Linked DNA regions of Homo sapiens. The protein of the gene in region 1 purifies or fractionates together with the protein of each later gene. This does not show direct contact. Each region holds a gene or a part of one and is shown in the gene's direction. Other genes may lie near its edges.

Region 1 (2,542 bases):
AAGTAATTGTAGTAATTACTCCTGTGCTCTCTAGCAAGTAATGATTCTTAATAGTATGGATGTTAGGTACCTGTGCTCAGAATTCTGTACTCTTCTGGAATCAAAAGTTGGGAGATTTTGGTTGGTTTCTTTGCTTTATGATACTGCTTTTAAAGAGACTTACTGAATAATCACCTGGTGGCTGTATTGCACACCAGGCACTTAAGCACAGGCTGAGAAGTTTAGATCATTTAAAGTTTCTTCCAACTCTAACGTTCTGTTAACTATAAGGACAGTTTGTTTCAGTGTGATGTAAAGGGAAAAGACAGGAAGGTCATCGCACTCTTCCACGAACATCCACAACTGTCAAAGACATACGCCTTACTTACATTGAGATAAAAGAATGTTTGATTTTTCCCTTCCAGGCATTCCAAAGGAGCAGAACACATTTATAATTTTTACTTCCATGTTCAGAAAGGGGAACAACAAACCCCAGAGGTAATCCCAGAAATCTCTAGCATGGATCAATAGCTTCAGTACTCTGTTGGTGGCTTAGTGACCTCATTTACAGTGTTTCATACACTCTGAAACTACCTACAAGCTACCTTTGATAAATGAGTCTCAGAAAGTGCTGGGAGAGAGATTGTTGGCTTCTTAACCTACAAAATGAGGAAGGAAAGATACTATTGTTGAGAAATGTGGAGACCTTTCCTTAGCACTATGACAGAAGCATTCATTGCACATGGATTCTGACTATGCATCCACATGGACTTAATTAAAGGAAACCTGGTCCTGTATAAATCTTAGGAAACAGGTGTATGTTTTAATCATGTCTTTTGGGTATAATTAACAGGAAAATGACATGAAAACAAAACTAAACAATCTGCTAACACCTTTTGACATTTGTTTTTTCATCATTGCTGTTTTTCCAAATTTTGTTAGCCCTTGTCAAGGTTTGCTAACCAATTCTTAATTAATACTTACTTTAAAGAGCCTGTGAAATTATTCTCTCTCAGGCTGTGACCCTCTTGCCATCTTGATACGTCATGAGAACGAAACTCACCAGCCATGTTCATTAAATACTGCATTTAACTAAGAGAAACTTTAAAAATTTGGGATTATAGTTAAGGTCTCCTATCTTTGGAACCTGATTAATTTATCTTTCTTTGGATTAAGCAAAAATTCTAATTTTAGCTATGAAAGAAAAGAAATTCTATTCTTAATTGGAAAAGACCATTAAACTGTTTCCCCAGAGGTTCTGGTTGACATTACTTTCTAGCATGTAGATTTTGCTTTTGCATTTTCATGGTGGAACAGATGGTCACTCACTTCTGCAGAGCCAAAGCCAAGGAAGCAGAACTGTTGAAGTTTTGGCTTAGGAACCACTTGACAAAGATTTGTTTAGAAGCCATTACAGATGGTTAAACAGTACCCCTAATCAGCTGCATTATTTTCTTAAGAAATTAATCTCTACCGTCTTTATAACTATATTCTTTTACTTATTATTTTTTTGAGATGGAGTTTGCTGTGTCACTAAGGCTGCAGCGCAGTGGTGTGATCTTGGCTCACTGCAGCTTTGAACTCGTGTGCTCAAGCAGTTCTCCCCACCTCAGCCTCCCAAGTAGCCAGGACTACAGGCAAGCTAATAAATGCCTGGCTAATTTATCTTTTCTAGAGATGGGGCCTCACTGTGTTGCCCAGGCTGGTCTTGAACTCGTGGCCTCACGTGATCTTCCCACCTGGGCTTTCCAAAGTGCCAGGATTACAGGCGTGAGTCGCCATACCTGGCCCTATTCTTTCTTCTGTTCTTTTCCACAAGACTGTTAACTTCAGTGGCTTTTTTCCTGTTGGAAAACTTTCTACCTTTGATGATTTAATTTTATCAGCTTTTTAACTGTTTTAACTGTTCTTAATTCTGTCTTGTCAACCACTGGTATGTCAAAGGAGGCCTCAAAAGGCTGAAGCGATTTTCCTCAAAAATTACAACTCTTTTTTTTCCTGATATTGTATATAATGTATAATTAACACTGTTCACTATTAAATCTTTGCTTAGCAAAAGAGAACTCTGTGGTGCCTAGAGTATGTCTCATAAAGTATAGTTGTAAGTTTGGCTTATTAATGTAAGTAGTAATAGTCATAACGATTAACACTAGCTGAGCTTCTTCCACATCGGGCTCTGTACAGATACTATTTTTATTTTATTTTTGAGATGGAGTCTCACTCTTTCACCCAGGCTGGAGTGAAGTGGTGTAATCTTGGCTCACTGCAGCCCCCGCCTCCCGGGTTCAAGCAACCCTCCTGCCTCAGCCTCCCGAGTAGCTGGGACTACAGGCATGTGCCACCACGCCCAGCTAATTTTTGTATTTTTAGTAGAGACAGGGTTTCACCAGGTTGGCCAGGCATATTACGAATTCCTGACCTCAGTTGATCTCCTGCCTTGGCCTCACAAAGTGTTGGAATTACAGGTGTGAGCCACTGTGCCCAGCCAAGCACATGTTTAAGAGAGCAGAGGGCTTGGAAATGAAATTATTGCCAACTTTGCCAATAGTCAAGTCAGTGTGGC
Region 2 (3,500 bases), 5.7 Mb from region 1:
CTGAAACCTCTGCCTCCGGGGTTCAAGCAACTCTCCTGCCCCAACTGCCCAAGTAGCTGGGATTACAGGCGCCCACCACCACACCCGGCTAATTTTTGTATTTTTAGTAGAGACAGGGTTTCACCATGTTGGCCAGGCTGGTCTCGAACTCTGGACCTCGTGATCCACCTGCTTCAGCCTCCCAAAGTGCTGGGGTTAAAGGCGTAAGCCACCGTGTGTGGCTGAGCCACCATGCCCAGCTATTTTTACTTTTATTTTATTTATTTATTTTTGAGACGAAGTCTTGCTGTGTTGCCCAGGCTGGAGTGCAAAGGCGCCATCTTGGCTCACTGCAACCTCTATAGTGTGACACTTTAAATTTCGTAATTTTATATTTGTTGATTTCTTCCAAATGCTTGTATTTACAAATTTTTCTGTTTGTTGTTGTTTGTTTGTTTGTTTTTGAGACAAAGTCTCACTCTGTCGCCCAGGCTGGAGTGCAATAGTGTGATCTCAGCTCACTGCAACCTTTGCTTCCTGGGTTCAAGCAATTCTCCTGCCTCAGTCTCCCAAGTAGCTGGGATTACAGGTGCCCGCCACCACGCCCAGCTAATTTTTTTTATTTTTAGTAGAGACAGAGTTTCACCATGTTGGCCAAGCTGGTCTCGAACTCCTGACTTCAGGTGATCCTCCCGCCTCAGCCTCTCAAAGTGCTAGGATTATAGGTGTGAGCCACCGTACCCGGCCCTCTGTTCTATTTTATTAAGAACTTTAAACCTGAATAGCTACAAAAATGTCATGGCATCTGCTTATATAATTACGATTTTTGTTAATGTACTGGTAGACTTTGTTGTTCTTAATCGTAGTGACTCTTTGAGTCAGTTTCCTTACCAGTAAAATAGGAGTACCATCACATTTGATTCCTACCCTACAGGAATAAGAGTTCCTTGTCTTTTGGTATAATAATGGAAATTAATGTTAAAATTTACTGCATTTCCCTTCACCAGAGTAAGCTGCACATGGAAGGGTTCCGGAGCTTGAAGGAGGGTGAGGCAGTGGAGTTCACCTTTAAGAAGTCAGCCAAGGGTCTGGAATCCATCCGTGTCACCGGACCTGGTGGAGTATTCTGTATTGGGAGTGAGAGGCGGCCAAAAGGAAAGAGCATGCAGAAGCGCAGATCAAAAGGAGACAGGTATGGATTGGAAGGCAGCTTATATAGGTTGCTAAGGGCATCCCCAGTCTCCCAATCCTGTCACTTTTTGGGTCACACTGCAAAAGACAAAGGGAAGCCTGTGGTCCCTGGCAGCATCTGGAAGGCTGAGCGCCTGCAATAGGTGTGGGCAAGGGCAGTAGGTGAGGAGGCCACTGGGGGTGACTTAGTGCTACTTGGGACAAGTAAGTTTGCTCTGTGGTCTCTAAGCCTCAATTGTTAAGTGAGGCAGTGATACTAACATCCTAGGATGGTTTTAGAATTAAAGGAGATCATAGATTTGCAAATGGTGGGACAAGACAGTATTATCTATATCTGTTGCTGCTTTACCAGGTCTGCAAATGGCTGGTTTCCTTAATCTTGCTTGGGCTTAAAGCCCCTTAGCTCTGAACAGATACTATAATTTGGCTTCTTTAATTTCTCCTATATTAAGGGTATGGAAGAATCTCTCCTATCCCCCAAGTTGCAGTTCCTAGTTGGGGTCAGTAACTTATATTTCTGGTATCTTGGTATTTTCAAGTTGACATGAATCTGAAGAGATCACCTAGACAATTAGATGTGGAAAGGACTTAGAGATCATTTAGTAATAGTCCTCCTTTTGCAAGTGGGAAGTTTGGTCTCTGGGAAGGGAAGTAAGTGACAAACCTGTACCAGAGCCCAGGTGTCCTCATTCGTGGGAGGCATCTGGCCTCTTCTTGCTCCTTTCTCTTACTTTTACGATCTTGCTTTGTACTAGGTGCTACAACTGTGGAGGTCTAGATCATCATGCCAAGGAATGCAAGCTGCCACCCCAGCCCAAGAAGTGCCACTTCTGCCAGAGCATCAGCCATATGGTAGCCTCATGTCCGCTGAAGGCCCAGCAGGGCCCTAGTGCACAGGGAAAGCCAACCTACTTTCGAGAGGAAGAAGAAGAAATCCACAGCCCTACCCTGCTCCCGGAGGCACAGAATTGAGCCACAATGGGTGGGGGCTATTCTTTTGCTATCAGGAAGTTTTGAGGAGCAGGCAGAGTGGAGAAAGTGGGAATAGGGTGCATTGGGGCTAGTTGGCACTGCCATGTATCTCAGGCTTGGGTTCACACCATCACCCTTTCTTCCCTCTAGGTGGGGGGAAAGGGTGAGTCAAAGGAACTCCAACCATGCTCTGTCCAAATGCAAGTGAGGGTTCTGGGGGCAACCAGGAGGGGGGAATCACCCTACAACCTGCATACTTTGAGTCTCCATCCCCAGAATTTCCAGCTTTTGAAAGTGGCCTGGATAGGGAAGTTGTTTTCCTTTTAAAGAAGGATATATAATAATTCCCATGCCAGAGTGAAATGATTAAGTATAAGACCAGATTCATGGAGCCAAGCCACTACATTCTGTGGAAGGAGATCTCTCAGGAGTAAGCATTGTTTTTTTTTCACATCTTGTATCCTCATACCCACTTTTGGGATAGGGTGCTGGCAGCTGTCCCAAGCAATGGGTAATGATGATGGCAAAAAGGGTGTTTGGGGGAACAGCTGCAGACCTGCTGCTCTATGCTCACCCCCGCCCCATTCTGGGCCAATGTGATTTTATTTATTTGCTCCCTTGGATACTGCACCTTGGGTCCCACTTTCTCCAGGATGCCAACTGCACTAGCTGTGTGCGAATGACGTATCTTGTGCATTTTAACTTTTTTTCCTTAATATAAATATTCTGGTTTTGTATTTTTGTATATTTTAATCTAAGGCCCTCATTTCCTGCACTGTGTTCTCAGGTACATGAGCAATCTCAGGGATAGCCAGCAGCAGCTCCAGGTCTGCGCAGCAGGAATTACTTTTTGTTGTTTTTGCCACCGTGGAGAGCAACTATTTGGAGTGCACAGCCTATTGAACTACCTCATTTTTGCCAATAAGAGCTGGCTTTTCTGCCATAGTGTCCTCTTGAAACCCCCTCTGCCTTGAAAATGTTTTATGGGAGACTAGGTTTTAACTGGGTGGCCCCATGACTTGATTGCCTTCTACTGGAAGATTGGGAATTAGTCTAAACAGGAAATGGTGGTACACAGAGGCTAGGAGAGGCTGGGCCCGGTGAAAAGGCCAGAGAGCAAGCCAAGATTAGGTGAGGGTTGTCTAATCCTATGGCACAGGACGTGCTTTACATCTCCAGATCTGTTCTTCACCAGATTAGGTTAGGCCTACCATGTGCCACAGGGTGTGTGTGTGTTTGTAAAACTAGAGTTGCTAAGGATAAGTTTAAAGACCAATACCCCTGTACTTAATCCTGTGCTGTCGAGGGATGGATATATGAAGTAAGGTGAGATCCTTAACCTTTCAAAATTTTCGGGT

Evidence for each region. Proteins that work in one complex are often made in the same cells at the same time.
Region 2: the proteins of HP1BP3 (region 1) and LIN28A purify together in Homo sapiens (affinity purification with western blotting; 2 studies listed by BioGRID and IntAct, with this or other methods). This does not show direct contact.

The regions. Positions count from the first base shown.
Region 1 is NC_000001.11:20,739,766-20,742,307, reverse strand, and holds the end of HP1BP3 (heterochromatin protein 1-binding protein 3), read left to right. Parts: 3' UTR 1-2,042; downstream 2,043-2,542. UniProt on the Homo sapiens protein: Component of heterochromatin that maintains heterochromatin integrity during G1/S progression and regulates the duration of G1 phase to critically influence cell proliferative capacity.
Region 2 is NC_000001.11:26,424,317-26,427,816, forward strand, and holds part of LIN28A (protein lin-28 homolog A), read left to right. Parts: intron 1-986; coding exon 987-1,171; intron 1,172-1,925; coding exon 1,926-2,142; 3' UTR 2,143-3,500. UniProt on the Homo sapiens protein: RNA-binding protein that inhibits processing of pre-let-7 miRNAs and regulates translation of mRNAs that control developmental timing, pluripotency and metabolism.